Homo sapiens: one gene and its partners. The main gene of each other region encodes a partner of the protein of the gene in region 4 in a complex. Each region holds a gene or a part of one and is shown on either strand. Other genes may lie near its edges. The genes, in order: ITGB6, TGFBR2, TGFBR1 and TGFB3.

Region 1 (7,022 bases), on a different chromosome or scaffold from region 4:
TTCCAGCCTAGGTGACAGAGTGAGCCCCAGTCTCCAAAATAAATAATAAATAAATACATAAAAAGACTGAAAAAAGATTAATACATGCTGGGTATTAGAATGATAGCAAATAAGTATGGTTAATTTGATTAGGTATGATAATGGCATGGTGACATTGCTAGAAAATATCCATATTTTTTAGAGATGCATACTGAAGGAGTGAAAGGAAATGAAAGCTGGGGTTCACTTTGAAATAATTCAGCCAAGAGAGTGGGATGGAGGGATAGTTGAAGCAGGTGTGGCAGAACTGTGATAACTGTGGAATCTGAGCGATGGGTCTTTGGAGGTTGGTTATATAGCTTTCCTCTTTTTGCGAATGTGTGTATTTTCCATAATTAAGCAAAATTCCTCAGGAGAAGATATAATTTACTCATCCCTAACAATGTAAAAGGTAAACAGGTTAGCTTGGTGACTTAGAACACAGTACTAATGAGCCCAAAGTTGTAGGACAGTTCACTTCACCTGACCCCTGGCCACAGATGTTATTTTTGACTTTCATCAACTCTCCAACAAATGCCTTGCCATGGTTAGAAGGGCAACCAGGTAAAAGAATATGGTTAAGTTGCCACAAAGGACAATAGCAGCAAGCCCCATGATATAATCCTGGTATTTCCATTTTGAAGAGCTAAACTAAGGCTCAGAGAAGTTAAGGGACTTCCCTAACTTTTGGTGCATGGTTAAGCTGAAGCCTAATTGTTCATTGTTCTTCTAAGCACAGCCTTTGGTTGACCCTCCTGGAAATAATAAGCAGGTGTTCCACAAACACGCACTTGGGCAATTATGTGATGTGTATCTACTAACCAGCACATTTCAATGTTCTCATACAGAGGCATAAATACTGACAAGTGATTAATATCTTTAAAATAACATTTTAATTAACAGTTAATTTCCCCAAAAACATGAATTGTTCTCCCTCAGGATGTAGAACATGACTGAAATTCAAATGCTGAATTTTTGCTGTTTCTTCATCTAACATGCGACCCGAACATGCATTAAACAGAAAAAAAAGCATAAATGGAAAATATTATTCCCTTATTAAATTGAGTTTCTTTGAATAACAAATGTTTGATGTTCCTGACTAGATAATGACTGGGTAGTAATTATTCACTTGGATGCAAAAAAGGTTTAACTCAAATAATTCAGTTTAAATTTCACTAACATCCTACTGGAAAAAAATGTCGCTCACTGCACACATTTAGGGGTCTTCAATTTAACTGAGTTTTTTCCCTAAAACCTATTTCTTCTTGAAGAAGTGAATTTGACTGGTCTTTGAAACCCAGTGCCCTCCAGAGACAATAGGGACAGTCAGGCCTCCTGGCCATAGGACTGCACTGGACTCATAAAGTGACAGGGCTTAAGACAGAAAGGTCTTCACTCCTACCTCCTAAAACATTTCAGAGCAGCTGTAAAGAAAGGTTATCTTTTTTATTATGCTTTAAAAAATAATGCCCACCCCCACATATTCTTTATGAAAACACAAATGAAACATATTTAAATTCATCTTTGATTAGAATTTTTTTTCTAGGATGACAAGTCATTAACTTGAGGCAAAAAAATGTTCAGCCTGACATTTCTTGCAGTCATGAATTGATTTTGTACTGTGCTAAGCAAATCAGGTCTGTGTTTGGCAGTTGGGCGATCATTAAGGAAGCTGTGGGTCATGACAGAGTTTTCCTATTACCACTTTTTCAATCTTGAAAAATGTGTCATTGCATTTGCAGAATCCACAGCCTAAATTAGCACTCCCAGACACCTGGGGGAATCAGCCTGGTAACCCCAAATGGTTAGGGGAAAACTGACCTTTTCTGAGCAGTGGATTGCACACTCACCCGAAATAGAGTAGGACTCAAGCCTGCATTTCAGCTGGAAAGTCTGTGTAGAGAGGTTACAATCAGCAGAGCACTAGAGGAGGCAGTGTGGACATTTCCACACCTCCTCCTGGAACAAAACCCAATGTGAGTGCATTATCCTGACCTCTGATCTTCAGCTGAGGCCAGGAAATACCCTATTACACACAACAGCAATATGTACTTGCTCTTCGTCCACTTTTACACTTCCACCTTACCCTCTTACTCTAGTGAAGTCTGCTTTACCCATCACTCCCTATAAGCAATGTCTTGGCCCTAAACCAGTATTGCAAGGGACTCCCAAAATATTGCAAACCTGAATGAATGAAGTTGCTTTAAAATACGGAATGAAAACTCTGCCATCAAAATTAAACATTCAACTAAATATCTACTAAATAACATTGTGTTATCTTGTCAACTGCAATTCAAGTCACCTCCTCTATAATGCATATCAGTTATATTAAGTGTGGGATATGGGTGTATTGTAGTATGTTTGACATGATATAGGGTGCACCTACAAACAAGTATCTGGTCCTACGGAGCTCTAAGCTGGCCCTGCTCACAGCCTGTGTCCTCTTTCCAAGTGTCTTTTCTGTTCACAAAGGTGGGAGCTTCCTGGAGGAAGTGGGAAATTCCTCCAGGACAGGCTTACCCTGTCATTGCTGGCCTGAACCTCTTACTTTTTTCCATCTTGTTTCTTCAATGGAGTCTCTCATTCTCCTGTAACCAACTAGATTCTAGTCTCAAATTTAATAGAATTCCATGCATGATTTTTGTTTGCAAATGAGACTCCATCTACATCTAAATTCACATCAGTCTGCCCTTTGCCTTCAAAATCTCAAATTCTTAGAGCAGCAAGACTAGATAAGATCTGGAGGTCCCTCAGAATTAACCAGGCTGCTCTCAGGAATAGAAGCAATATACCAACTTAGCTTTCACCCATCATCCACCACCAGCCAAGGAACATTTTTCTGTTTGGCTTTATTATAGAAATAGCATATCTCTTTAAAGGCACATAACAAAAGTAGCATGTCACTTAGTCAGAGGTCAGGCCACTGGCTCTGGACAACATAGAAATGGGTGCAGGTGTGATTCCCACTCACAATGAGGGCACTGAGGCCAGTGAGTGGGAAAGACCGGGGAGTGTTTCCGATTTTATTCAATTCTTTTAAGAGCTGAAAGAAATATACTGAGCAAGCAAAGACAATTAAGGTTTTTTTTCAAATCCACCCCTAGAAATTTCTACCATAGCTATAATTCATGGAATGAGGTGATCAAAGTATAAGATTTTAACTTAGAAGGTCAGAGGCGGTACCTGGATTCCATACATACTCAGTAATGGGCTTAGAAATGTTAAGTGTACCAAAGCCCTGGGGGAAAATATCTTAATAATCCTCTCTAAAACCTAAAAGAAAAGGAAATTCCAAATGTGAAGAAAAGCTATAAATAGGAACTAATGAGAAGAGGCAGCATTTATGGAGCATTTGCTATGTGCTACACACAGTGCTAAAATACTTTACCTGGACGAGGTAGGAACAGATAGGGACACCAAGGCTCAGAGTGTCTTCAGTACGGTCATGTGGTGGAGCTGGGTTTGGACCCAGACTGTTGCCATAGCCTGTGTGATCAGCCTTGGAAAGTGGGAGAGAAGAAACTGTACCTTACCCAGACACCTTCCTCCGGCCTGGAACAACTAGAGAGGCTTGATCCTTCTGGACCTTCTGGTCCTTTTGGCTACAGCACCACTGCTATTGGCACCTGGAGGCACATCTATAACCCAAACAGCACAGCTGAGCTACCCAAGAGTCCCACACCCAACCTTCCCACTGCCCCCAAGGCAAAGCCATTTTTCCTGGCCTGCCTTTGGACTGCAACTCTTTCATGACCCCAGGGTCCTCCATACCAGTCTCTTGTGGTTGTCTTACACAGTGTTGTACATAGTAAGCAAAAGACAGCTGGTTCTTTGGCTACCCAGGGCAAGTGTTAGCTGTCCAGAGGATGGTTCCTCACTCCTCCCAAGCAACTACTTTCTCCCACTTCTGAGTTTTGATTTCATCTTAGCATGATTATTTGTGCCCTTCTTTGATGCCTCTCATGAGTAACACGTTTGTTAAAGGCAGATACTGTGTCGTTCATTTTTGTATGTTCCTACTGGTTTCACTTTTCCTGTTTTTTACTTTTTTGGCTTTGATTTCACTTTTGGTTCATCTGTCACTGTTCATGCCACTCATTCCATACATACTGAGTACCTGCTTTGGGCCAGGGACTCAGTGCTGGGAAAACAGCAGTGAGCACAACAGCTGAAGCCTTGTTTTCTATCCGTAAATTTGTGCATTACCAAAAGAGGTAAGATTTTTAGAATATACATATGGGACTTGTTCTGTATATTTAACAAAATGAAAATGTATAAATTGCAAAACACTAAACATATGAAATGCCAAATTAATCAAAATTGTTCTAATGGTTTCCAAGACTGAGCTTGACTCTCCTCTTCCAATTTGCACTACGTATTAAAACAGTATAAAAACAAAATATACATACTTTCACTTGAATCTTTTTTTTTTTTCCAGGGAACCAATCCACTCTACAGAGGATCCACAAGTACTTTTAAAAATGTAACTTATAAACACAGGGAAAAACAAAAGGTAGACCTTTCCACAGATTGCTAGAACTACTTTATGCATGAAAAAAGTCTGTTTCACTGATATGAAATGTTAATGCACTATTTAATTTTTTTCTCTTTGTTGCTTCAAAATGAGGTTGGTTTAAGATAATAATAGGACATCTGCAGATAAGTCATCCTCTACATGAAGGTGACAGACTGTTGGCAGTTTCAAAATAATCAAGAAGAGAAATATCCTTAGCAAAGAGATGACTTTGGGGATCATTTGAGGAATACTAACTCTGTTGCATTAATGCTTCAAAAAATCATCAAATGATTCATGGGGGCCTGATTTGCATTTGAAAAATGTTTGAAATTAGAGTCTCATTTGTTTCAGGAATGCAGCTACCTGAGTTTTTTGTCTCGGCAAAGTCACAAAGCCCATATACTCACATTGTGTGTCTATACTTGCCAATTAATTCTAAACTTGTAGGAAATATGCCCTCTCTTAAAGGAGAATTTTTTTTAAATCTCTGAGAAATGAGATTCTGAGTTTATTTCAGCTAAAAGGTTGCAATTCTTCTGAAGATATCTCAAATATAAGGTTGAAAGTTAAGTGTTAATAATTTTTGTGAATTTATACACACCTAAACGTTAAGTACACAAATATTTTATTTGTTTTACAAATAAGGAATAAGTAATTTATAAATTAAGAAGTTACCTATAAAAATAAAAAGATAACAACCCTATCATATAGCTTATTTTTAAATTACCTGAAAAACGATATTCTACACTGTTTCCTTTTTGACTCTGAGTTTTCAAACTGTTACTTCTCCCATATTTCTCAATCCATTTCACTCAGTTGCACAGTCTTTTAAACCCTGTAATTGTCATACCAAAGTTTCTTTTTAAAAAAAAATTACTTTAAATGCTTAGTTTATTCAAAGAGCGATCCAATAATATAAAAGGAACATGTGTTAAACACAATAAAATTTTAAATGGCTCTAAATCAAGCACATCAAGAGTATACAAGTCTTAAAGGCTTTTTAATACATACTCTTTTCCCATCTATGTAACCCAACTTGCACATTTCAGCTGCATGTGGTGAATATGCATCATATATTTACTTTAAGAGGTAAGATTTTACTTGCAAAATACATGTGCAAATTAGGGATCCATCAGTTGATGGAAGAGATGGACTCTAGAATATTATTTCTTGTGGTTATTACTCCTTTACAAAGCACTTTCGTCTCACTTGATCCTCATAAGGAAACTAAGGCTCAGAATGAGTAGAGCTGGGTTCAGAATCTAGCTCTTCTAACTCCAAGCCATCTCCTCTTTCCACTGCAGGAAACTGCCTCTTTTGTCAGTGAAATAATAGAAAGATTGTGTTAGTTAAGTGATAACTGTCATTTGTTTGAAAATGTTCGAGACTGAACAAATAGCATTTAAACTGCTGGCATATAGATGAGATATTGTACTTTTGTGCAATGTTTATTACCTTTGATTAAATTGTAATGTGAAGCTTTTACTAGGTGAATAGTTCATTATGTAGTGGAGGCTTCGTGGTTGTCCATTGAATTGTCACAGCAAAATCTATAAGTTTCTTCAATTCTACAAGATAGATCCATATACCTTTGATCACTTGGAGACTCTTTTTTTGCTGGTTTCTAGATAACTCAGGTAAATCAGACCTTTACAGAGTACAGGGCTAGGTGAAAGAATTACTGAAAAATCACCTTGAAAATCCGAAGGGCTGATATACCCTTTATGTTCCTGACTGATGCGCAGAACCTGGGGGAAATCTACAGCAATATACAGGTTGCAATGCTGATAACACAACAGCAATCCTCTCCTCTACGTGGACTTACTGTTGTTTTTTTAATTATTATTGGAATGGGATTTTAGAAAATAGAAGTTACCTTTGTGTGTGTTTTAGGGAAGGTAGAGAAGAATCTGCTCTTTCTCTGAATACTGTTTTGACCCCAGGCAGGACCTTGGAAAGGCCAAAACATTAACAGTAGTACTTCTGTTCACTGAAGAGTTATGTTACATGAAGATAAAATGGTTTTGTCGTGTTTATTATTGTATTTTGTGTTGATATAAATAAACATGGTAATTTAAACAATGAACCTTAGATGGATGATAGTTTCTTTTATTTGCTTGGCACAAAACCCTCTTCTTGGATTTCTGGATTCCTCTGTGACCTGTTCTGACTGCCTTGATGGTCTTGGTCTGGGGCCAAGGAGAAGAGCAAAAGGAGGCAGCCACAGAAGGCAAGAGACAGCAGGGAGCGGGCCTGGACATCACCATTTTGTAAAGTCAAGTTCTTTAGAGTTAGTGCTATAAACTGAAATGTATCACCTTCCACCCCCAATAGCCCCTGTCCCCCCAAAATTCATGTATTGAAGTCTTAACCCCCAGTAGCTGAGACTATAACTGTGCTTAGAAATAGAGCCTTTAAAGAGATAATTAAAGGCCGGGCACGATGGCTCATGCCTGTAATCCCAACACTTTGGGAGGCTGATGCAGGC
Region 2 (7,022 bases), on a different chromosome or scaffold from region 4:
GCTCAGGCAGGACAGAGCAGAGTATGCTCAAGGCAGACTCCATACTTTGGCTAGATTCCCTAGACCAGTGTCCAGAGTACAGGGCTGTTTGAGATAAGAGCCAGGAGATATGGATCAAGAGGTAGGGTGAGGCCAGGCTCAAGGTAAAGGGGATCTAGCACTAGCTCTAACTTACCTGCCCACTGTTAGCCAGGTCATCCACAGACAGAGTAGGGTCCAGACGCAGGGAAAGCCCAAAGTCACACAGGCAGCAGGTTAGGTCGTTCTTCACGAGGATATTGGAGCTCTTGAGGTCCCTGTGCACGATGGGCATCTTGGGCCTCCCACATGGAGTGTGATCACTGTGGAGGTGAGCAATCCCCCGGGCGAGGGAGCTGCCCAGCTTGCGCAGGTCCTCCCAGCTGATGACATGCCGCGTCAGGTACTCCTGTAGGTTGCCCTTGGCGTGGAAGGCGGTGATCAGCCAGTATTGTTTCCCCAACTCCGTCTTCCGCTCCTCAGCCGTCAGGAACTGGAGTATGTTCTCATGCTTCAGATTGATGTCTGAGAAGATGTCCTTCTCTGTCTTCCAAGAGGCATACTCCTCATAGGGAAAGATCTTGACTGCCACTGTCTCAAACTGCTCTGAAGTGTTCTGCTTCAGCTTGGCCTTATAGACCTCAGCAAAGCGACCTTTCCCCACCAGGGTGTCCAGCTCAATGGGCAGCAGCTCTGTGTTGTGGTTGATGTTGTTGGCACACGTGGAGCTGATGTCAGAGCGGTCATCTTCCAGGATGATGGCACAGTGCTCGCTGAACTCCATGAGCTTCCGCGTCTTGCCGGTTTCCCAGGTTGAACTCAGCTTCTGCTGCCGGTTAACGCGGTAGCAGTAGAAGATGATGATGACAGATATGGCAACTCCCAGTGGTGGCAGGAGGCTGATGCCTGTCACTTGAAATATGACTAGCAACAAGTCAGGATTGCTGGTGTTATATTCTGATGGGGAAACAAAACAAGGAGAGAAGGAGTTGGATGTGGTAGGTAAGTACTGTCAGGAAGTGGGTTCATGCCTGAGCATCTATAGATTTTAGCATCTGCATAGTTTTTGTAGATACGATATTGTTAATTTTTATTTCAGGGATGCAAGTGCATGCTCGTTCAGCCTTCCCTGCCTCTGGCCATCTGTTCGTCATCCCCTGCTCTTCCTTCAAACTTCAGCTTAAATGTCACTGCTTAAGAGAGGCCTAGAAAAACTTGGAAAACTGTCTTATTTTATACATTTTCATAGCACCTTATACTTTTCCTAGGTAACAATTCAGTACAACTTAAACTAAATGAACTATGACTCTACCTCTTGATTTCACATCTGTCTTTCCCTACTCTTGCCATCCCCCACGGACAGGGAACTCCATGCTGGAAGGTACCATGTCTTCTTCACTACTGTAAACTGCACTTAGCACACAGCAGGTCCTCAATATTGCCAAATAAAAAGACAAACCATTTACTGAGTGTTATCTAAGCTCAGGACATTGGGAACATGAAAAAAAATGACACAGCTTCTGCCTTCAAAAAATCTGCATGTATGACATCTGGTAAAAACACAGAGCGTGCCACAGTTTGCACCAAAATCTTTGCTCTTTTTCAAACTCCAACTTGTTCTGCTCTGATCAGCATTCAGGCTACCCTGGGCCCATGGGTGACAGGGAGAGGAGTCCATGGAAAGGATCTCTTTGGACAGTTATCTTACATCCACCCAACATTCCTCTTTTCAGTGTGCATACGAATTGTAGTTTCATGGAACTGAAATATTTAATAGCAACAATGGAAACATGGCCGCAAAGGTAAAACAAGTTAAAAATGGAAATGCTGCAGTTTTTTGACTTGGAATTCTGAAGCAGGCCCCTGTGGGCTGACAAGGAGAGTCCTTAGCACCAGATATCTAACTATAATATCTTGTGCCTCAAACTTTGTTTCATGTGCTGGCCTTGTTGGCTCTGGTGAAATAGTTTTCCTTTTTGGAAGAAGGACATGAATAGAAACAGACAGTGGACAGGAGAGAGCAAAAGGCAGCTCTAGTTCACTGGGAGCTTGTGCTGGGCTGCTTTCATTGGGCAAACATGCAGAATTCTATTGCTTTATGTGTCATCCATCTGCCCTCCAAAGTACCCATTAATGAGCAGGCCTCATGCTCAGATCCTAGAATCATTCATTAAATATATCACTACTGAGTGTCTATGATGGGCATGGCACTGCCCTCAGAGAGTACCCAGTAGAGGACTTAGGGCATATATACAAGTAAGCAATATATGGCATCTGGGATAGGGGCTAAATGTACAATGTAATCTATATATTAGTGGAATGTGGAAAAGCTTAGAGAAACATGGAAGGCACAGTAGCAAAAAACTGCCTTTAAGTTGGTCTCTGAAGAATGGGAAAAGTCAGTGATGAGTGGAAAGAGTGCTATGTTAAGGAGAAAGAATATATGATCTACTTAAGGAAGAGCAATTATCCCATACTGACCACTCTGCACCTGCGGAATAGAAAGGAAAAAAATGGGTAGGTGGTATGGAACCAAACTCCGTGTCAGAAAAGGATCTTTTGATTATTCATTTGTCAGTTTTCACCTACAGTAGGTGTTTAAAGAGAAAAAAAAAAGTGATGAGAATATAGTCCAGGTAGAATGAGGATATAACCAAATTCTCTCAAGGGGAACCCATTACCTAAATGATACTGATAAAGGAGTTAAGAAGAAATTACTTGGGCAGATAGTAAGGGTATGGAAGTCCTCGGTAAGGTGTTTCTTTTTAATGAAAAGCAGCCCCAAATCATTTTCTAACAAAGAGCAGCCTGTAAAGTTGAGCTTCAGACATAGACAGGCAAGCTGGGAGCTTGCACGGGTGAATGCCAGCAGGAACTAAGGACATGTTCAAGATGGCAGCTCCATCTTCCCTTCTCTTTGTCAGCCATGTGTACAACAAAGAACAGACCAGATGGTGCTGATCAACTGGAAAGCCCATTTGCATAATAAGATTAGGGTGGGGTGACCAGTCTTCCCCATGCACTATGTAAACGTCATACCTGATTGAACCAATCTGTGAGCCCTATGTAAATCAGACACCGCCTCTTCAAACGGGACTATAAAATCCAGCACATTCACCACTGGCCCGTCCTTTCCGCTTGGAGACTCCTTTCTCTACAGAGAGAATTGTTTCTCTTTCTCTTCTCTTCTGCCTATTAAACCTCCACTCCTAAACTCCTCATGTGTGTTCATATCCTAAATTTTCCTGGCTCATGATGATGAACCCCAGGTTATATACCCCAGTCTACATAGCTACTTCAGCATCTGATACTTTCTTTTTTTTTTCTCGAGATGGAGTCTTGCTCTGTTACCCAGGCAGCAGTGCAATGGCACGATCTCTGCTCACTGCAACCTTGCCTCCTGGGTTCAAGCCATTCTCCTGCCTTAGCCTCTATGCCCAGCTTTTTTTTTTTTTTTTTTTTTTTTTTTTTTTGTATTTTTAGTGGAGACGGGGTTTCACCATGTTGGCCAGGCTGGTCTTGAACTCCTGACCTTGTGATCTGCCCGCCTTGGCCTCCAAAAGTGCTGGGATTACAGGCGTGAGCCACTGCGCTTGGCCCAGCATCTGAAACTTTCATCTAACGAAACAGTGAGAAATGAAGCTGGTACATATCCATTTTTAAGGTTTATGTGTAATATGATTACTTGTTCTTAAGGTAAGTCTGAGTGGAAATGCCAACTTCCACTGACTATATATTCTAGATGAAAATCTTGGGTCTAGTAACCAGAGAAGTAACCCCAAGATATCAGAATTCCAGCAACCAAGAGGGAAAAAAAAAATCACCATTTTTTGGAAAGATATATGAATGCATTTTAAAAGTATAGGGAAAGTGAGAAAATTTGGTGATTGATCCTTAAAAACATAAATTCTTACACTGGGAGGCTTGGATTGGGACAAAGAACAGGCAAGAGTAGGGCAGAAATGGGGTGGGACAAAGCAATTACAGAATGATTGAATGCAAAAGAAAAAAAAGATGCTCTTGTGGAGATGTATGGACTGTCCCTGTTGTACAGCAAACAAAATTAAGGGGGCAGATGAACACAACACAAATTCAAACACAACAGCCGATCCAGCAGTCGGCATTTCCACTTAGGCTTACCACTTCCACAATGCTCCCTGCCTGAAACTCCACCTCTATTATATGTGGTATCCAATGAATGTGTTTGCTTGAAGTACCCACTTGTCTCCGGTCTCTGTGTCTGTAACTACATGGAATGTCTTATAATCAGAAATCCACTTGATTATCTGATTGCTTCTCTCCTGACAAAGCAGGGTAGTGGCCAGGTCTGTTTTGATCATCATGATATACACAGCACCTGGGGCAGAATGGGGCAATTTATGGTATTCAACAAACGTTTGTTTTAGAAGCTGAATGATTACTTACGTGGAATGATACTTCTCAAATTTTTTATATTTTACAGCAAGGTTTGACAAACTATGGCTCAGAAGTCCATGGCCTGCTTTTGTATAGTCCTATGACCTAAGAATGATTTCCATCCCCATTTTTAAAGAGTTGTTTAAAAAACAATAAAACTAAGAGGTTCATGCAACAGAGATCTTATCTGGCCCAGAAAGCCTAAAATATTTACTATCTGGCCCTTCACAGAAAAACTTTGCTGACCCCTGTTCTAGAGGTGTTATTTTAATAACCTCATTGGCAGAATCTGGAGAGACTTCACTTTGGCCAAATGTGAATATGTAGTCAATTTTTTTTCACATATGAGAAATACAATTTGAAAAAATTTAAATATTAACTGCATAATTACTTAGCTTTGTCCTTAATTCACTAAAACGTCCAGATGAAATGTTGATTCATCATGGATAATTTTATTTTACAATTCCTAAATATCTATAAAAACAGTCGTATTTGCTAATTTCAATTCCTTTTTAGCCTAAAGGAAACACAAAAACAGAAATCCCCTTAAGTTTATGTGTGGCACTGACTGAAGAAGATTCTAGAAATCCCCAGTTCAATGTCAGAAACCAAAGTTTTACTTTCTCCTAAAATTTCCTGTTATTTCTTTAGAAGACTTACACTTAAAAAATTTGAGGGGGAGGAATTCTTGAATAACATCTGTCAATCTTGAAACTTCAAAGAGGTGGTGAAAAACTCTAACAATAGCAACCAGGGCTGGAAGGAAGCTTTGGGATGTGGCTTTATCTAAACAGGAGCCACCCACACCCTCTGGCAGTATTAACCCTTGGGTTGCTACTAGAAAACCCAACAGCTGTTGGTGTAGGTACAAGCCAGCATCTCCTTTAGTCGAAGACCAACAGGAAATGCTTCTTTTCATCAGCCGCCAGTTACAGAGAAACTCATAAACTGAACACTTACTAAGTTCCTGGCTGTGTGCTAAGGATTTTATAGAATATTTAAATTTAATTGATAGAAAAACCCTATGAGGTAGAAACTGCTATTATTATAAACCCCATTTTACAGATAGGGAAGCTAAAGATCAGACAGTTTAAGTAATTTTCCCAGATGATAAATTTAGGCAACAGCAAAGCTGGTATTTACAATGAGCATTGCCTGATTGGAGAGACTTCTGATCTCAACCCCATACCTGATCTCTAAACTTCATATTGGTGAGAGCCAACTAAGAATGGCAATGACCTTAGGCTGGGTGTGGTGGCTCACACCTGAAATCCTAGCACTTTGGCGGGAGAATCACTTGAGCCTAGGAGTTTGAGACTAGCCTGGGCAACATAGTGAGACTGTCTCTACACAAACTTAAAAAAAAAAAAAATTAGCCAGACACTGTGGTGCTTCCTGTAGTCCCAGCTATTACGGTGGCTGAGGCAGGAGGATTACTTTACTTGAGGCAGGAGTTCAAGGCGGCAGCACACTATGATCCTGCCACTGCATTCCAGCCTGGGTAACAGAGCAAGACCCTGTGTTTGTGCGGGCGGGGATGGGGGGGTAGGGGTTGCGGGGGAGGGGAAGAATGACTTTATATAAGCTCCCAATTTGATAAAGTGTTTTTCTTTAGTGTAGCCTGGACTAAGTGATTTTACAGCCATCCACCGACTGACATTGGCAATTCTTGTATAATGTGTCTAAAGGAGTATATTTTGGGTATGGGGATTATATTCCTTTGTTCTGAACTAAGAACCACAGTTTAGTAGTGTCTCTGTAAATATGCATCTTTTTCCTGCCAGGAAATAAAAAGTTTTATGTGAAGGAGAACCCCCAAATCTTTTTCTTTTCTCAGAGCCTATTCTCATGGCCTAGATCTTAGCAGAGCTCAAAACATAATTGTTGCACTATTGGGACCTTCCATGAATAGTAATAACATTGAACCAGATATAGCTCTGAAGGGCATTAAAAATAAGGGTGGAATTTATCCAAGGCCCATAAAAAAATGAGGCTATAATAGTAAACATTTTTAGCCTGGGTTCCATAAATAGAGTTCAGTGGGTCTGTGAATTTGAATGGGCAAAAATTGCATCTTTTTTTATTTTCTCTAACCTTTAATTAAAAATTAATATTTCCTAGTATCAGCTGTACCTATGAGTTTGTTGTTGCAGACGTCTCAGCATGTGACTTACGCTCACCATTTAGACATTTCAATTGTTTAGATCTGCTGCTATTGTTATTTAAAGCATTATTATAGAAACATATATTACTATAACACAAATTCATTTTTAAAATATTTGGTCATTGTATTTCAATGTAATTGGTTTTCTTTGAAATACTCCATGTTCTATTTTATGCATTTAAAAAACATCACAGTGAGAAGGGGTCCACAGGCTTCCCTACTTCAAGAAGTCCATGGCACAGACACACAAAAAGGGAAGCTCCCTTGGCAGAGTGAAGGCATTTGGGCTCTAGTCTCTTTTCCAGGACTTGCTAGAGCAGGAATTTTGAGATTGATGGGTTTCTCTAGGAAGTTGGTAACTAGTGCCAATGGGAGATCTGCCTGGCTTGATTTGTTGTGCTGCACATGGACAACTGTGGATGCT
Region 3 (7,022 bases), on a different chromosome or scaffold from region 4:
AAGGCATTTTCAGAATAGAATACCAAATGACATACCACAAAAACCCTTCCAAAAACAAAACAGAAAAAGTTTGGGTTACCCAGATAAATAAGCTTTTTGAATTCAAACACTATAGGTTTTAACATAGAGACTTTCAGCAATTCTACTCATTTCCATTAGAAAGACACAGAAGTGGCACTTACTGGTATAGTACAATCCCATTTTGAAGGCATGTAATGTTCTGAATAAGTGAAAGAACAATAATAGTATACAAAATACAATTGCATGAATTATGTTCCTCACTACTATATGAGGTCATTTTTAGACTCAAGATAAGAGTTTTATAAGTGTTAGTTTTAAGATCCTGAAAAACTATAGAACAGTACATTCAAAGTCTGAATCAAGGAAACTCTAGTGGTTCAGAATCCTCTGAGAATGTACTAACCAGGAGTAAATCACTTTCTTTAGTAATAAGACATGTTTCATTGTAATTCAGCAATCCAACTCCTTTGCCCTTAAAGATGATCTCCAGCACAGCAGAGTTACCTAAAGTTAAGACCAGCAATCATCTTTTTAAAAAACAAGTTTTGTTAATAAAAAATAAAGGTAGACTACACATTTTCTGTCCTGGGAAAGAAGCGTTCATAGTGCACAGAAAGGACCCACATGGCTGTTTCCTGGGTCCAAAGAAATCCTGGGAAGTTTTTAATTGACTTTATTACACTGCTGCAAAAGGAAGCAATATCCTTCTGTTCCCTCTCAGTGAGGTAGAACAATTGACCTCCCAAATTAAAACCCAGGAGCAGATCTGAAGAAAAAAGGAGAGTTCAGGCAAAGCTGTAGAATTACATTTTGATGCCTTCCTGTTGACTGAGTTGCGATAATGTTTTCTTAATCCGCAATGCTGTAAGCCTAGCTGCTCCATTGGCATACCAACATTCTCTCATAATTTTAGCCATTACTCTCAAGGCCTACAAGAAAATATAAAAAAAAAAATTAATGCATGCACCATTTTCCATTGGTCTGGATAAGAATTTTTACGTGTAAATTTTCTTTTTAAATGACATATACACTTGTTATTGTTTAAGCATTATTTGTAATAGCAAATGAGTAGAAATTACATAAATTTCCATCAATAGGGTACTGGTGCCAGTGCTGGAAAGCAGGTGGACAAAGAGTGACTCATTTAGCAAACCTGAAAAGGCCGAATCCTAAACCAGAGCTGGGCAAAGCAAAGAAGAAATCTGACCTCACACTGAAATTTTAAGTTTGTACTTTGAAGTATTCACATCAAATTTTTCTTTCTTTTTTTTTTTTTTGAGACAGGGTCTCACTCTGCCGCCCAAAGTGGAATGCAATGGCATGCCCTCAGCTCACTGCAGCCTTGACCTCCCAGGCTCCAGCAATCCTCCCACTTCAGCCTCCCAAGTAGATCAAATTTCTAAAAGACAAAATCTAGCAGCACTCTCATTTATTAAACTATGTCACATGCAAATTCCTTAAGCATGCTGAAATACATTTTATTTATTTGGGCCTGGAGATGTGATTTTGTTGGAGGTAGCAAGCTCTCTTGCTTATCAGAGGTTCTGCTGAGTCCTACAATAGTTTAAGACGTAAAATCAACTACTGAACTGAACAGCTTTTTATAGCCTTTTTAAGCTACAAATCTTCAAACCTGGAGGAATATGCTCTGCTTCACCAATATTGTAATAGTAACAGCTAGCAATTAAGGAGAGGTTAAATAAAATTCATCTTACGAATCTTTAAATTTACAATTACAAAAACGTTTCTAAAACTTTTTGTTAGAGCTGAAGTTGAGCAGCTCAGATACTGCTGGAAAAAAGCATTTTCCCTAAATTCCTGGTTAACGGTTATCTGGGCAATCAGATGAATAAAACGGAAAATCATTTGAAACACCTTTGTAATCACCTTATCTGAGTTCCTCACCTTGCAAAGGGATATTAAAGTCCAGAGAACTAAAGGGATTTGTTCAGAGTCAGACCCTTGAAATGGTAGCCAGGCTGGTCTAGAATACAGGGCTCCTCATTCATGTCCGGTAACTGTCTAGTGTTCTGGGTTGCCCCGGCTGAAGGGAGGCATTCATTTAAAAATATGTGCCTTAGTTCGCCCGGCAGATCTAAACTATGTTCTGATACACTAAAGGCCACTGCAAATGTTCCATGGCCCTTTCAATGTGCTTACAATTGAATATGAAAACCAAATTATTCTGTTTTTAAACATTGGTTTGACTGCTATGAAAAAGAAAATTCTTAAAGAAAAGTTTTCCTTAAAGAAAAGTAGCAAACTTTTGCTTACTAAGCAGAAGCAGTTTAGAAAATTGCCTAATATCAAAAAGAAATACTCACTTCACAGCTCTGCCATCTGTTTGGGATATTTGGCCTTAACTTCTGTTCACAAACAACTTTTCTCATTTCTTCAACTGATGGGTCAGAAGGTACAAGATCATAATAAGGCAGTTGGTAATCTTCATGAATTCCTGTATCAGTTTAAAAAAAATTAAATTTTGATGAATTTATTCAGCTAATGCCAAGGCATTAAAAGATCACCTGAGAGACCTATTACAGTGTTTCATTACTAAAGTAGGTATGTGGAACAGAGATTACAGCTTTCTCTATCTCATCCACATCTGTATCCACAAGCCACTTCCCTGAGTTGATATTCCACCCACACCTTGAAACTAAGTATTGCCATGAGATCAATAAAGCCTATTTGAAATGACAGTAAACTATGAGCTGTGATGACCAGATTGACATTTTCCCCTAGAACCCTATTGTGCAGCAAATGAGATTCTATTCTGTAAGTGCACAGGCTCTCACTTGCACAGGGATATATATACCCTATCAGTGAGACTTGAATCTTATGAGGCAAGTTTAAGGTGCCAAGTCCCTTTCTCTACTTGCATCTGTCAATAATATATCCTATTTACTACAATACAGAGAAATACTCTGTCCCTCACTGCTTCAAAAACCTAAGGCACTAGGTCTCAGCCAAGTCTAGGTCCCCAAGCCTAAGAGACTGTTTCCTGAGTAAACATTAAAAGTACTCCATCTAAAAAGCTAGAAGTTAAAACAAACTAACTCTAGAATACAACACAATGGTAACATAATTGTATTCTGTGTATGTAACTGTAACTATCAAGTTGGAGAAAATAACCACAATCTCAAAGAAAAAAAATAAGTTTGACACCCAGGTACATGCTAGAAACAGCTTCCTAGGTGAGCCTCTCAAGCAGCTGTCCATTCTAAAGAACTATATTCCAATATAACAAGGGGTTGGGTTCTGATGAGTCTCCAGATTCAAATGGAAACAGGAAGAGAATACACTAGGCTAGAGCTGTGCATGTGCACACCATGGCACTGTCCCCTCCCAAAGGTTTCATCGCCTTTGTTTTCTCTGGCACTCGGTGACATCCTGTTTCAGATAATGGACTGTACATAATTTCATTCAATTAAAAAAAGAAGACAATTCTTGAACAACTTCTGCTCATGACAAACTACTGGGGGAGAGGAGAGCAATTTACCACCAATGGAACATCGTCGAGCAATTTCCCAGAATACTAAGCCCATTGCATAGATGTCAGCACGTTTGAAGGATTCAAAATGTTTCATATTTATGGAATCATCGAGAACTTCAGGGGCCATGTACCTAAAAAAAATTTGCAAAAAGAACTTTGAAAATCATCCCCTTACTGCCATATTTGGATGAACCTCCTTTCAGACATTTCTTTATACATAGACATATGTACACAATATTACATAACAAATATTAGACTCAAGAAAAATATTAAATATCCACACTGGTTTGCACATTAATGATGTCAACTAAATCCCACAAAATGCTAAAATAGCAGTTTCACACTATCTGCCTCATGATCTTGGTTTCCAATGAAAGACATACATAACAATTGTGACTGTTAAAGGTGTCCTAATGTACACCACCTATACACGTACTAGGTAGAAACCATGCATTTTAATTTAGAAGTCTTCTCACTGAGGATGAAAGGAAGGGCACGAATATACTCCAGGGAAAAAAATAATAGATACAAAAGAATGCCAGTCCTCATACTGAAGCTTCAAAAACCTACCAAAATTATGGGTCAGGACCCACAGAGACCTACAGCAACCACTGACAAGGACCCCTTAGCTGGTTGAGAATTGAGAGTCATCTACGGCCATACCACCCTAAACACGCCCGATCTCGTCTGATCTTGGAAGCTAAGCAGGGTCGGGCCTGCTTAGTACTTGGATGGGAAAATTGAGAGTCCCCAGGGAATCCAGAAATCTCAAAATTATACATGCAATTTGAATAGACTAATGCTGCTGGCTCTCCAGCTGTCTCCAAGGCCAAGACAGTAGTTTGAAAAAATGCTGTGACAGCTTGTGATAAGGGGTTTGGGTCAGAAATGCCCAGGTTCAAATCTCAGCTCTTCGGCTTATCATCCACATGAAGCTGGCCATATTATTTAACCTCCTCAAGGTGGTTTCCTCATCTGTGAATTAAAGGGTAATAACACCTACCTAATTAAGTTCTTTTGAAGACTCATGGACTCAACAAATATCTACTGAGGATCTACCATGTATTAGGCACTGTGATGGATGCTGGGAATACAAGGCTGCTCTCAAGCAGCTTGCACCTAATAGAATATATAGGCAAATAAATAAACAGTTACAACATAACGCATAAGTGCCTCAACGGTCCCAGTTCAGTGTGCTATGACAGTCCCTGGCAGGGACTCCTAAGATTTTTGAGGACTAGAAAAAACTTCCTACGGGAAAGGTGGGTATGAGGCTGAGAAACAGTAGGGTAAAGTATGCTCCAGGAGACAGCATGTGCAAAAGTTCTAAGAAAGCAAGAAAGGCATATTTTTAGGAACTGAAATATGAAAATAGCAGGGCTAGCTACTGCACAGTATTTGAGAAGGGATTAAATGAGGTAATATACGTAAAAGACCTATTAGACGATTGGCACATAGTAGGTGCCCTATAAACGTTAGTTACTACTGTTATTATAATTAACATGCCTAATGATATTTTCTGGAAGGGCAACCTTTCATCAGCAGGCATCTTTTTAAGTCAGGTAACTCTGGCTTCAGAGCAGGCAAGACCATGAGATCTTCTTACCTGTTGGCAATCTAATAAAGTGCAAGTTTAAGCTGAGTTTCAGCAATGATATGTATATATGAAAGAGAAGGGAAAAAAGGTGATTTCAGAAGATATTAAATATAGTTGTTCAAAAGTATACCTTTTTGTTCCCACTCTGTGGTTTGGAGCAATATCAATGGTATCTGTGGCTGAATCATGTCTTACTGCCAGTCCTAAGTCTGCAATACAGCAAGTTCCATTCTTCTTTACCAAGATATTCTTTGATTTCAAATCTCTATGAGCAATGGCTGGCTTTCCTAAAGAATCAAAAATTAAACATGACTGCTTAAAAGGTAATACCAATCACAACTCACATCTTTAGGTTCAAAAGTCTCTTCTCCCAACCCAAATTATCAAAGCATTTCAGCCCACATGACCTACAATACTTACGGCATTATTAAACTCAAGTGAATCACTACACCAAAAGTCACTGAATTTATATTTCTTTAAAGAAAATGTGGACAATAACATGCTTTAAAAGATGAACAACTCAAAGACTGGGGCAAAAAAAAAGTTATCAGTTTATCTGTTGGTGCCTTATGAATTCTTTTTAAGAAACTTAGCCATAGACTGATATTCCAGCAGCCCAGGAACCAAGCATGTAGAACATCACTTCCCTATCAACTGCAATGTACTCAGTATTAAGTATATTATCTTTGATGCTAACCACTAGAAAATGTTATTAAAAAATAATAATTATAATGTGGAAAACCTGGAACCTTCATACACTGCTGGCAGGAATGTAAAATGGTTCAGGCACTTTAAGAAAATAGTATGGCAGTTCTTCAAACCATTAAATAGAGTTATCATATGATACAGTAATTCAACTCCTAGGTATATACCCAAGATAACTGAAAACATGAAACTACATACAACTTGTACACAAATGTTCACTGCAGCATTAGCTACAATGGCCAAAAGAAACAAACCAAATGTCCATCAACGAACGGATATATGACATATGCCATATCCATACACTGAAGTATTACTTAGCCATCAAAATGACTGAAGTACTCATACGTGCTACAACATAAATGAACCTTGAAAACATGCTAAGTGAAAGAAGCCAGTCACAAAAGACCACATATTGTATGATTCATTTATATAAAATGTGCAGAATAAGCAAATCTACAGACAAAAAGGAGCAGTTGTTGCCTAGGGCTAAGGAGTTTGGGAGGAAAGGGGAGTGACTGCTAGTGGCTACAGGGTTTCTCTTTGGAGTGAAGATATTCTAAAATTGACTGTAGTGTTTGCTGGCTGTACAACTCTGAGTATTCTAAAAACCACTGAATTTTACACTTTAAGTGGGTGAACTTTATGATGTGAATTATAACTCAATAAAACTGTTACAATCAATAATAATAATAACTACAAAGATGGAGCTAAGATGTGAACTAGCACTTATGCTGTATGTAAAGTGGGGAGTGGGGGAGCCATTGGGTTGCAAGTGGACAACTGCTAGAGCAGAGAGATATACTGGCATCTGAAATCCCACATGCACAAAAACTACAGCATACAAATGTCATAACTAAAACTTAGTATTTAATTTTTCAACTGTAAAACTATCTCATGCAGTCTCCTTATCTCAAGGTCAAATATAATTATTAGATGGCCAGATAACAGTTACCTAGCATGTTGATGTTTACAAAGCACTTTCACATTTCATTTGATACTACACATAAAAATATATTCAGTTGGACCTGAATTCTGAAACTGAGATCCTCAAAAATCATAAGATTGAATGCTACTTTTAAGAACTCAAAAAAAATCACAGTTTTGTTACAACGACTAGAGAATCTCTAAACAAATTTCCAGATTCCTAGCTCTACCTGAAATTTTGAACTGAAAGATAAAATGTTCTCATCTAAAAAATTTGTTTTA
Region 4 (7,804 bases):
CTTGCTCTGGGGCCCAATCTTTTAGTAAGTGCGATCCTAACCAGTTTTAAAGATAAAAAGGCCTGATGGGGGTTACAAAGGAGGAAGGTAGACACTGAACTTGGGTCTTGAATCTAGCTCCATTATTTACTAACTATAACGCTGGGTAAACCACAGCCTCATAGGCAGCAGTAGCTAACCTCTTCTGACCTCTTCCGTGATAACATATGCCAAGCACTGAGTTACACGCTTCCCATGTATTGTTGCATTTCCTTTTCACTGTAACACCTCCATTCTAGGCATAAGGAAACCAAGGCTCGGAAAGGTTAAATCGTTTTTTAGGTTTTTTTTTTTTTTTTGAACCCAGGCAACAGCTCTATGCTCCATCTGGCCTCAGTGCCTGAGCACCTAATCACTCCCTCACGTTACAAATCGGTCTTGGTTTCCTTAACTACTGAGGTAACTGAGGTTAACTCCCACCTCCCCACGGGGATTACCGGGAAGAAAGGCCGTCCCTGCCTGCCTCCCTTCCATGCATAAAACAGTGCGGCTTTTGCAGGAACTTCTGCGACGAGGTGTCCCAAAGGAAAAACTCTAGGATGGGAGCGAGTGCGACCCCGGCCGGGGCTCCCCTATCACCCTGTGATCGATCTGTTCTGGGGAAGTTCGCACTCGGGGCTCTAGAAAACGGAGAAAGGCTCGGAAATTTCCCACGGTCCTAGACGCCGGCGGGGACAGGGTGTTTTCTACTTTCTGAGGATTTTAAAGAAAGCAAACCCCAGGCCAGCAGCGGCGGAGCCCACAGTGGCCTGGGGGCGGGGCGGTGAGGCTGCCTCCTTCTGGGCCTCACCCGGCGCGGCGCGAGGCCTGCCGCCCTGAGTCGCCTCAGAGAAGTCGGGGCCGGCGGGGTCGCTCCTCCCCACCCGCCAAATCCTGGCCCCCAAGGCCCCCGAATTGGTCCTCACGGAGGTAGCCAAGCTGTAGCGAAGCTCCTCGTCCAAGTCGAGCAAATCCTCCATCTCCGCGGCCGCCTGACGTCACTTCCTGGAAACCGACTGGCCCAGACGCGTCCCTGCTAACAGCCCCGCCCCTCCACCCCAATTTTTAAAGGGTACGCAGCATGGTTCCTGGATTCTGTGTGCCATCCTCCAAACTACCGAATCTTTCTTAAATCTGCCTTGCTTGACATCTGGAAGCAACCTCCGGTTATTAAAACTCGCCAACGCTGCTCCTGCGAGACGGTAAAATAATTTGGTCGTTAGGAACTGTCTGTATTTGTAGCTCTGTTTAAATATATCAATATATTAAGTGCAAAGCACTACTACTGCTATACTGATGCCTCCCACTTGTACAGCTCTTTGCAAGGTACAGAAGGCCGTCACAGTTATTGGCTTAACGTGAGGGGCATTAACAACCTTGTGTGGGAAGCAAGATAAGTGGTATTGTTTCCATTTGACAGATGAGAAAACAGGGAATCAGGTGTAATAAATGGTTTACCATGAATTATGGAAACTGCAATATACATAATCTCTGCCTTCAAGAAGTTTACAGAGAGGCTGAATCAACACATCAAATAGCTGAGTAGTAATAACTTTCAAAAGTACAAATATTCAATATCTCATTAAATCCCAATAATCCCGCAAAGTGAGTAGCAGTAGTATCTCTAACACAACAATAAAGCACACTGAGGTACAAAGAAGGGGCTTGAGGAAAATCACCTAAGTGCCAAGCAGCAGAGCCAAATGCCCTTCTGACACCAGACATTACTGGAGTATTTATCTCCAGCACATACTACTGGGTGCCAGCCATTCTCCTAGGCTGGCAGAGGGAGATGTACCACAAATTCCCAGCCTAATGGGGCATTTAAGTTGCGTCTTTGTTGACTCTTCATATGAGATCTCCAAGTCAATATCACTGGCCAGGTCCCTGACACTGGTTGGCTGAGATCCATAGGAGATGGGCTGATAGCCCTGAAAGCAAACAACATTCCAGTATTATGTTGAGGGGAAGGCCTGGATGGACACAGGTTAAAAGCAAGGATTCGGAAGTGGGAGTAGCACCCCTGAAACCTCATTGCAAGCATTTCTTAAATATCCAGTAAATCACTCAGTTCAGTCACACATGTTACTGGATAGGACTGTGTGTTAGCATGCCTGTGACAGCAAGAGCACTGGCCTGGATATCAGAAGAGCTGTGTTCTCATCTTAGCTCTCCTGAAAACTACCTGTGTAGTCAGAGCAGAGCCCTTTCCGCTATCAGTTTCCTCCCTTGTAATTACTTTAGAGATTATCTCTAAGATCCTTTGTTAACTTGCTTCTCAGTGAGAATACTTTGTTAGATTTTAATCTGAAGAAACACTCATTGCCAAAAATCCAAGACAGATGAAATATAGGCTCCAATGAATCCCTTGTTCCCTTCTTCTTCGGCACCAGATGAGGAAGAAGGGATTAATCTTTGGATTTTTCCATTTCTTGTAAGCTCACAGCATACGACCATCACCTTATAGTCAGTTTCCAGACCTTCACCCCCACTTCTTCCCCAACTTGCTGAAAACAGAAGGCAAATGGTCCTCACTCTGGGCAGAGAGGTACCCTGCAGTAGTAGCTTCCAGAACTTGCTTAGCACCTGAATCACGTGTGAGGTTTGTAAAGAAACAGAGATGCCAGGGCCTCAGCTCTGGAGACTGATTTGGTAGAGGTGGAGTCCAAAAAAGTATAACTTTAATAATTTTCCTTCCTATCTTGCAACTGTCTGCTCAAAGGCCTTCCCTTATCACCCTATTTGAAACTGCAACATCCCCCAACCTAGGCACACCCCATCCTCCTTCCCTGCTTGATTTTCTGCCACACCACATTTGTTTGTTTGCTTGTCTGTTTGAGACACGGTCTTGCTCTGTCGTCCAGGCTGGAGTGCAGTGGTGCAATCTTGGCCCCCTGTAAACTCTGCCTCCCTGGCTCAAGTGATTATCCTGCCTCAGCCTCCCAAGTAGATGCCTGCGCCAACATGCCGGGCTAATTTTTCCATTTTTTTGTAGAGACTGGGTTTCGCCGTGTTGCTGGGGCTGGTCTCGAATTCCTGAGCTCAAGTAATCCTCCTGCATGGGCCTCCCCAAATGCTGGGATTACAGGCGTGAGCCACTGCACCTGGCTCAGCACTTTTTACCGTACTACATCATTTACATATTTATTTAGTTTATCGCCTCCTCCACTGCCCCACCCCTGCCTCTAAAATAAAATTTCCCTGAGGGCAGGAGTTTTGTTTCGTTCACTGATATTCTTCACAGAGCCTAGAATAGTGCCTGGTATATAGTAAACATTAAACTTTTTCTGAAATTTCAGAGGCAGTATAGCATAGTAATTAAGTCCAGAATCTGGCAACGTCCTGGGTCCAAATCCCAACAGCTGACACCTAATAACTATGTGACCTTGGGCAAGTTACTTTTAAAGTTTCTACCCCTAGGTTTCCCATTGGTTTTGCAAATGAAAGTAATGCCTACCCAAGCTAGATAGCCTGTGTAAAATATCGCCTCCATCACTCACAAGCAGTGTGGTCTGTAAAAAAAAAAACAAAAAACTCTATGCCTCAGTTTCCTCATCCGTAAAGTGACCCACCGCTGTGCTGGGATACAGAGAACAGCCCCTTCAGTTAGTGGCCTGGAAGCCAGACCTCTCAGAAAGGGTCCAGGAAGGCTGGAGTGAGATGGGGTGGGAGCGGCACTCACTCTCAGGAAAGTTCAGTTCAGAGGCAAGCCCTGTGTTGCGGGGTGCGGGGAGCCACGTGCCCTACCCTCCCTTGGCTGCTCGTGGGAAAAGGCCTAGAGGTTCGGGCCGAGAAGAGGAGCGAAAGCACAGAGCCGACTTCCCCTCACCCATCTGGGAAATGGGCTCGGGCCAACTGCTGACTTCGCGCTCGCTGGCGCAGCTCCCTGCGGAGACCTCGGCGGGGAGGGAGGCTGAACATCTGGATGACATTTCTGCGAGAGCGGCTCCGGAGCGGCGGTCGGGGAGGGAGAGGTGCGCTCGTGCGCACGTCGGGCCGGGAGGGAGGCGATTCCTCGGGGCCTGGGTCTTGTTTTTCTCGCTCTCTACCGCAGCCCCTTCTCCCGCCCCTCAGCCCCCACCCCGCAGCCCCCAGCCCCCGAGCCTCCCCGGCTCCCGACCAGCCGAGCTCCTTCACTGGCGGCCTCGCCTCGCCAGAGGGCACCCTCGATCTTCCGGAAAACGCCACCATTTTTCACTGCCCCTGGAGCGTCTCCAGGCTTCTGCCCGCCTCCCGACTCCGATCTTGTCAATGAAGAATCGGGCCAGGATCGCCGCGGAGCGGACGCCGACCCTCCGACCCGGCTCGCAGGCTGGGAGTCCCCTCTGCGAGGCTGGCATGGCCGCCCCTACCGGGTCCCGCGCCCTCTGCGGACCCTGCCCCGGGTTGGGCCTGGCCCGCGGGCGGCCCCGGGACCGGGGGACCAGGAGGGAGAGTAGACGCGGGCCGCGGACGGCGCGGACTGACAGCTGGCGAGAGGGCGCCGGGGCTGGGGGAAAGGGAGGGAGGGGGCTCATCGGAGTAACTTTCCAGAAAAACAGCCAACGTGTGGCAGGAGTGATTCCAAGAGGGGAAAAAAAGTTCAGCTACCACGTCGAACGAGAGGACTCGCAAAGTATTTTTCAAAAGGGCTCGGCTTTTCCTGTGCCTGTTTAAAACATTAACATCGTGCAGCAAAAGAGGCTGCGTGCGCTGGTCCCTCCCTCCCCCACCCCAGGCCAGAGACGTCATGGGAGGGAGGTATAAAATTTCAGCAGAGAGAAATAGAGAAAGCAGTGTGTGTGCATGTGTGTGTGTGTGAGAGAGAGAGGGAGAGGAGCGAGAGGGAGAGGGAGAGGGAGAGAGAGAAAGGGAGGGAAGCAGAGAGTCAAGTCCAAGGGAATGAGCGAGAGAGGCAGAGACAGGGGAAGAGGCGTGCGAGAGAAGGAATAACAGCTTTCCGGAGCAGGCGTGCCGTGAACTGGCTTCTATTTTATTTTATTTTTTTCTCCTTTTTATTTTTTAAAGAGAAGCAGGGGACAGAAGCAATGGCCGAGGCAGAAGACAAGCCGAGGTGCTGGTGACCCTGGGCGTCTGAGTGGATGATTGGGGCTGCTGCGCTCAGAGGCCTGCCTCCCTGCCTTCCAATGCATATAACCCCACACCCCAGCCAATGAAGACGAGAGGCAGCGTGAACAAAGTCATTTAGAAAGCCCCCGAGGAAGTGTAAACAAAAGAGAAAGCATGAATGGAGTGCCTGAGAGACAAGTGTGTCCTGTACTGCCCCCACCTTTAGCTGGGCCAGCAACTGCCCGGCCCTGCTTCTCCCCACCTACTCACTGGTGATCTTTTTTTTTTTACTTTTTTTTCCCTTTTCTTTTCCATTCTCTTTTCTTATTTTCTTTCAAGGCAAGGCAAGGATTTTGATTTTGGGACCCAGCCATGGTCCTTCTGCTTCTTCTTTAAAATACCCACTTTCTCCCCATCGCCAAGCGGCGTTTGGCAATATCAGATATCCACTCTATTTATTTTTACCTAAGGAAAAACTCCAGCTCCCTTCCCACTCCCAGCTGCCTTGCCACCCCTCCCAGCCCTCTGCTTGCCCTCCACCTGGCCTGCTGGGAGTCAGAGCCCAGCAAAACCTGTTTAGACACATGGACAAGAATCCCAGCGCTACAAGGCACACAGTCCGCTTCTTCGTCCTCAGGGTTGCCAGCGCTTCCTGGAAGTCCTGAAGCTCTCGCAGTGCAGTGAGTTCATGCACCTTCTTGCCAAGCCTCAGTCTTTGGGATCTGGGGAGGCCGCCTGGTTTTCCTCCCTCCTTCTGCACGTCTGCTGGGGTCTCTTCCTCTCCAGGCCTTGCCGTCCCCCTGGCCTCTCTTCCCAGCTCACACATGAAGATGCACTTGCAAAGGGCTCTGGTGGTCCTGGCCCTGCTGAACTTTGCCACGGTCAGCCTCTCTCTGTCCACTTGCACCACCTTGGACTTCGGCCACATCAAGAAGAAGAGGGTGGAAGCCATTAGGGGACAGATCTTGAGCAAGCTCAGGCTCACCAGCCCCCCTGAGCCAACGGTGATGACCCACGTCCCCTATCAGGTCCTGGCCCTTTACAACAGCACCCGGGAGCTGCTGGAGGAGATGCATGGGGAGAGGGAGGAAGGCTGCACCCAGGAAAACACCGAGTCGGAATACTATGCCAAAGAAATCCATAAATTCGACATGATCCAGGGGCTGGCGGAGCACAGTAAGTCCAAATTCTCGCTGGGGTGTCTGCTCTGGAGGGTCTGAACTGGAGCTGGGAGCTCTGCAGAGGGGGGCCTAGTGCTGGCCACACAGCAGGGTGCCCCAGGATTCACCAGCACCAAGGCTCAGGATGTGCGATGCTCCTCCGTTGGGGCTGGGGAGGTGGGTGGGGAAGGAGATAGAGCCATTCTGTTAAGAGCCGGCGCTTCTGGGAGGCCAGGAGCCCTGGAGCTGAGTGGCTTGCTGAATTCACATCACATCCTTGACTGATTTTAATTTGGAATTACATTGTGCTGTCCAGGGAAACATATGTATTCTTGCACATGCGATCGTATCAGTAACTGTAAGCATCTGGGTGCCATAAAGGGGAAGGCCGGCTCTGTCAGGAGCCCTTACGGTTCTCAGTGTGGAGACCTCATCTTCTCCCTGCTTTTCACAACTCATTGTGACACGTCTCCGTTTCAGTTTTTCCAGTTCTTGGGAAGAAGAATACCTGCCCCAAATTAATGTCTGTCAAGCTTTTTGAAGCCCAGGCAGGAGACAGCTTCTTGCTGCCTGGGCCCTTTGGTCTACCCCACCCACGTGACCCACGAGACCCACGTGAGCTGTGTGTGTGGAAGGAAGAGGGTATGCACGAATGTTCCCAGGGCCGTGTACTTTAGGGTGACATGCAGTCTTGTGCAGTAGACAGATTCATGTGCTCAAAATGGGCGCCCTCCAGGCCGGTGGGCACGGGGAGAGCGGGTTTTGGCTGTGGATGCGTAGAGGAGGCTGGCGCCCTTTGTGTCTGCGTGTCACGGGAGAGCGGGTGGAGGGGTGGCAGTGGGTGCATGGTGGGGGGGGGGGATATGTCTGGGAGCCTGCCGTCCCAGGAGGCTCTGTCTGCATGGAGGAGCCGGGCGGCTTCTGGGCGAGATGTCTGTGTGTGTTGGTACACGTGTGGAAGTCATATGTGTTTACTGAAGGGGATTTTAAAAACCTCAATACAAGAGAGAGAAATTTGGCAGATGTTGAGAAACTGACAGCCCAGGAAAGAGGAATGTGAGCCACTCGTGGGCCGTAGACTCCGGGAGCAGCTCTGTTTGCTTTTCCTACCAGCAGGTGTCCTCGCCGCCCTGACTACCTCAGCCCAGGCCCACCTGGGAGGTGGGCAGCTCCTGGAGTGGGGTGGAGGGCATGGGATGGAGCTGGCAGGCAGGGGAGGGTGGTCAGCAGAGCACACAGCAAGGGGTGAAAGGAACCTGGCTGGAGAGAAGGAACAGGAGTGGGTACCGATGGGTGGACCAGCTCTGGCTGGAGGTGCAAAGGCCCCGTTCACGGCTCCACGCCAGGCAGAGGAGCCTGTGGTTACTGGCGAGGGGTTCCCGCTCCAGCTTCCTGTGGCTGCCTGGAGCGCCTTTCTTCAGGATGTGGCTGCCATGTGGGGCGGAGGCTGGAGGCCGATGCAGAGCTACTACTCCCTGCCCAGGGTCTCTGGGTGGGGCTGGCTCAGAGACCCACAGTTCCCAGAGGCACCTAGCAGCTCGATGGCCAAGGCTCCAACTCCCTGGGAACCCACCAAC

What was found.
Region 1: the proteins of TGFB3 (region 4) and ITGB6 are in contact, whole or in part, in a crystal structure (PDB 4UM9), measured with the Homo sapiens proteins. Residues at the interface, in NP_001316868.1 of Homo sapiens: His259, Gly262, Asp263, Leu264, Arg266, Leu267, Lys268; in NP_000879.2 of Homo sapiens: Ser142, Ala143, Ser144, Asp147, Pro196, Cys197, Ser199, Ile200, Tyr202, Cys204, Ala234, Asn235, Ile236, Asp237, Thr238, Glu240, Asp271, Lys355.
Region 2: the proteins of TGFB3 (region 4) and TGFBR2 are in contact, whole or in part, in a crystal structure (PDB 9B9F), measured with the Homo sapiens proteins. Residues at the interface, in NP_001316868.1 of Homo sapiens: Arg325, Lys331, Trp332, His334, Tyr390, Tyr391, Val392, Gly393, Arg394; in NP_003233.4 of Homo sapiens: Leu50, Phe53, Asp55, Ser72, Ile73, Thr74, Ser75, Ile76, Glu78, Val100, Asp141, Glu142.
Region 3: the proteins of TGFB3 (region 4) and TGFBR1 are in contact, whole or in part, in a crystal structure (PDB 9B9F), measured with the Homo sapiens proteins. Residues at the interface, in NP_001316868.1 of Homo sapiens: Ala301, Leu302, Asp303, Asn305, Tyr306, Tyr350, Leu351, Ser353, Thr357, Thr360, Leu364, Leu368; in NP_004603.1 of Homo sapiens: His39, Leu40, Thr42, Lys43, Phe55, Met70, Ile78, Phe84, Val85, Lys91.

What each region holds. Positions count from the first base shown.
Region 1 is NC_000002.12:160,099,269-160,106,290, reverse strand, and holds the end of ITGB6 (integrin beta-6 isoform a precursor), read left to right. Parts: intron 1-4,456; coding exon 4,457-4,555; 3' UTR 4,556-6,620; downstream 6,621-7,022. UniProt on the Homo sapiens protein: Integrin alpha-V:beta-6 (ITGAV:ITGB6) is a receptor for fibronectin and cytotactin. It recognizes the sequence R-G-D in its ligands. Internalization of integrin alpha-V/beta-6 via clathrin-mediated endocytosis promotes carcinoma cell invasion.
Region 2 is NC_000003.12:30,665,591-30,672,612, reverse strand, and holds part of TGFBR2 (TGF-beta receptor type-2 isoform B precursor), read right to left. Parts: intron 976-7,022; coding exon 176-975; intron 1-175. UniProt on the Homo sapiens protein: Transmembrane serine/threonine kinase forming with the TGF-beta type I serine/threonine kinase receptor, TGFBR1, the non-promiscuous receptor for the TGF-beta cytokines TGFB1, TGFB2 and TGFB3.
Region 3 is NC_000009.12:99,143,108-99,150,129, reverse strand, and holds part of TGFBR1 (TGF-beta receptor type-1 isoform 1 precursor), read right to left. Parts: intron 5,399-7,022; coding exon 5,242-5,398; intron 4,634-5,241; exon of another isoform or gene 4,518-4,633; intron 3,646-4,517; coding exon 3,521-3,645; intron 2,477-3,520; coding exon 2,346-2,476; intron 951-2,345; coding exon 825-950; 3' UTR 1-824. UniProt on the Homo sapiens protein: Transmembrane serine/threonine kinase forming with the TGF-beta type II serine/threonine kinase receptor, TGFBR2, the non-promiscuous receptor for the TGF-beta cytokines TGFB1, TGFB2 and TGFB3.
Region 4 is NC_000014.9:75,978,981-75,986,784, reverse strand, and holds the start of TGFB3 (transforming growth factor beta-3 proprotein isoform 1 preproprotein), read left to right. Parts: upstream 1-4,789; 5' UTR 4,790-5,891; coding exon 5,892-6,243; intron 6,244-7,804. Other genes in the region: IFT43 (intraflagellar transport protein 43 homolog), read right to left, coding at 945-998. UniProt on the Homo sapiens protein: Transforming growth factor beta-3 proprotein: Precursor of the Latency-associated peptide (LAP) and Transforming growth factor beta-3 (TGF-beta-3) chains, which constitute the regulatory and active subunit of TGF-beta-3, respectively.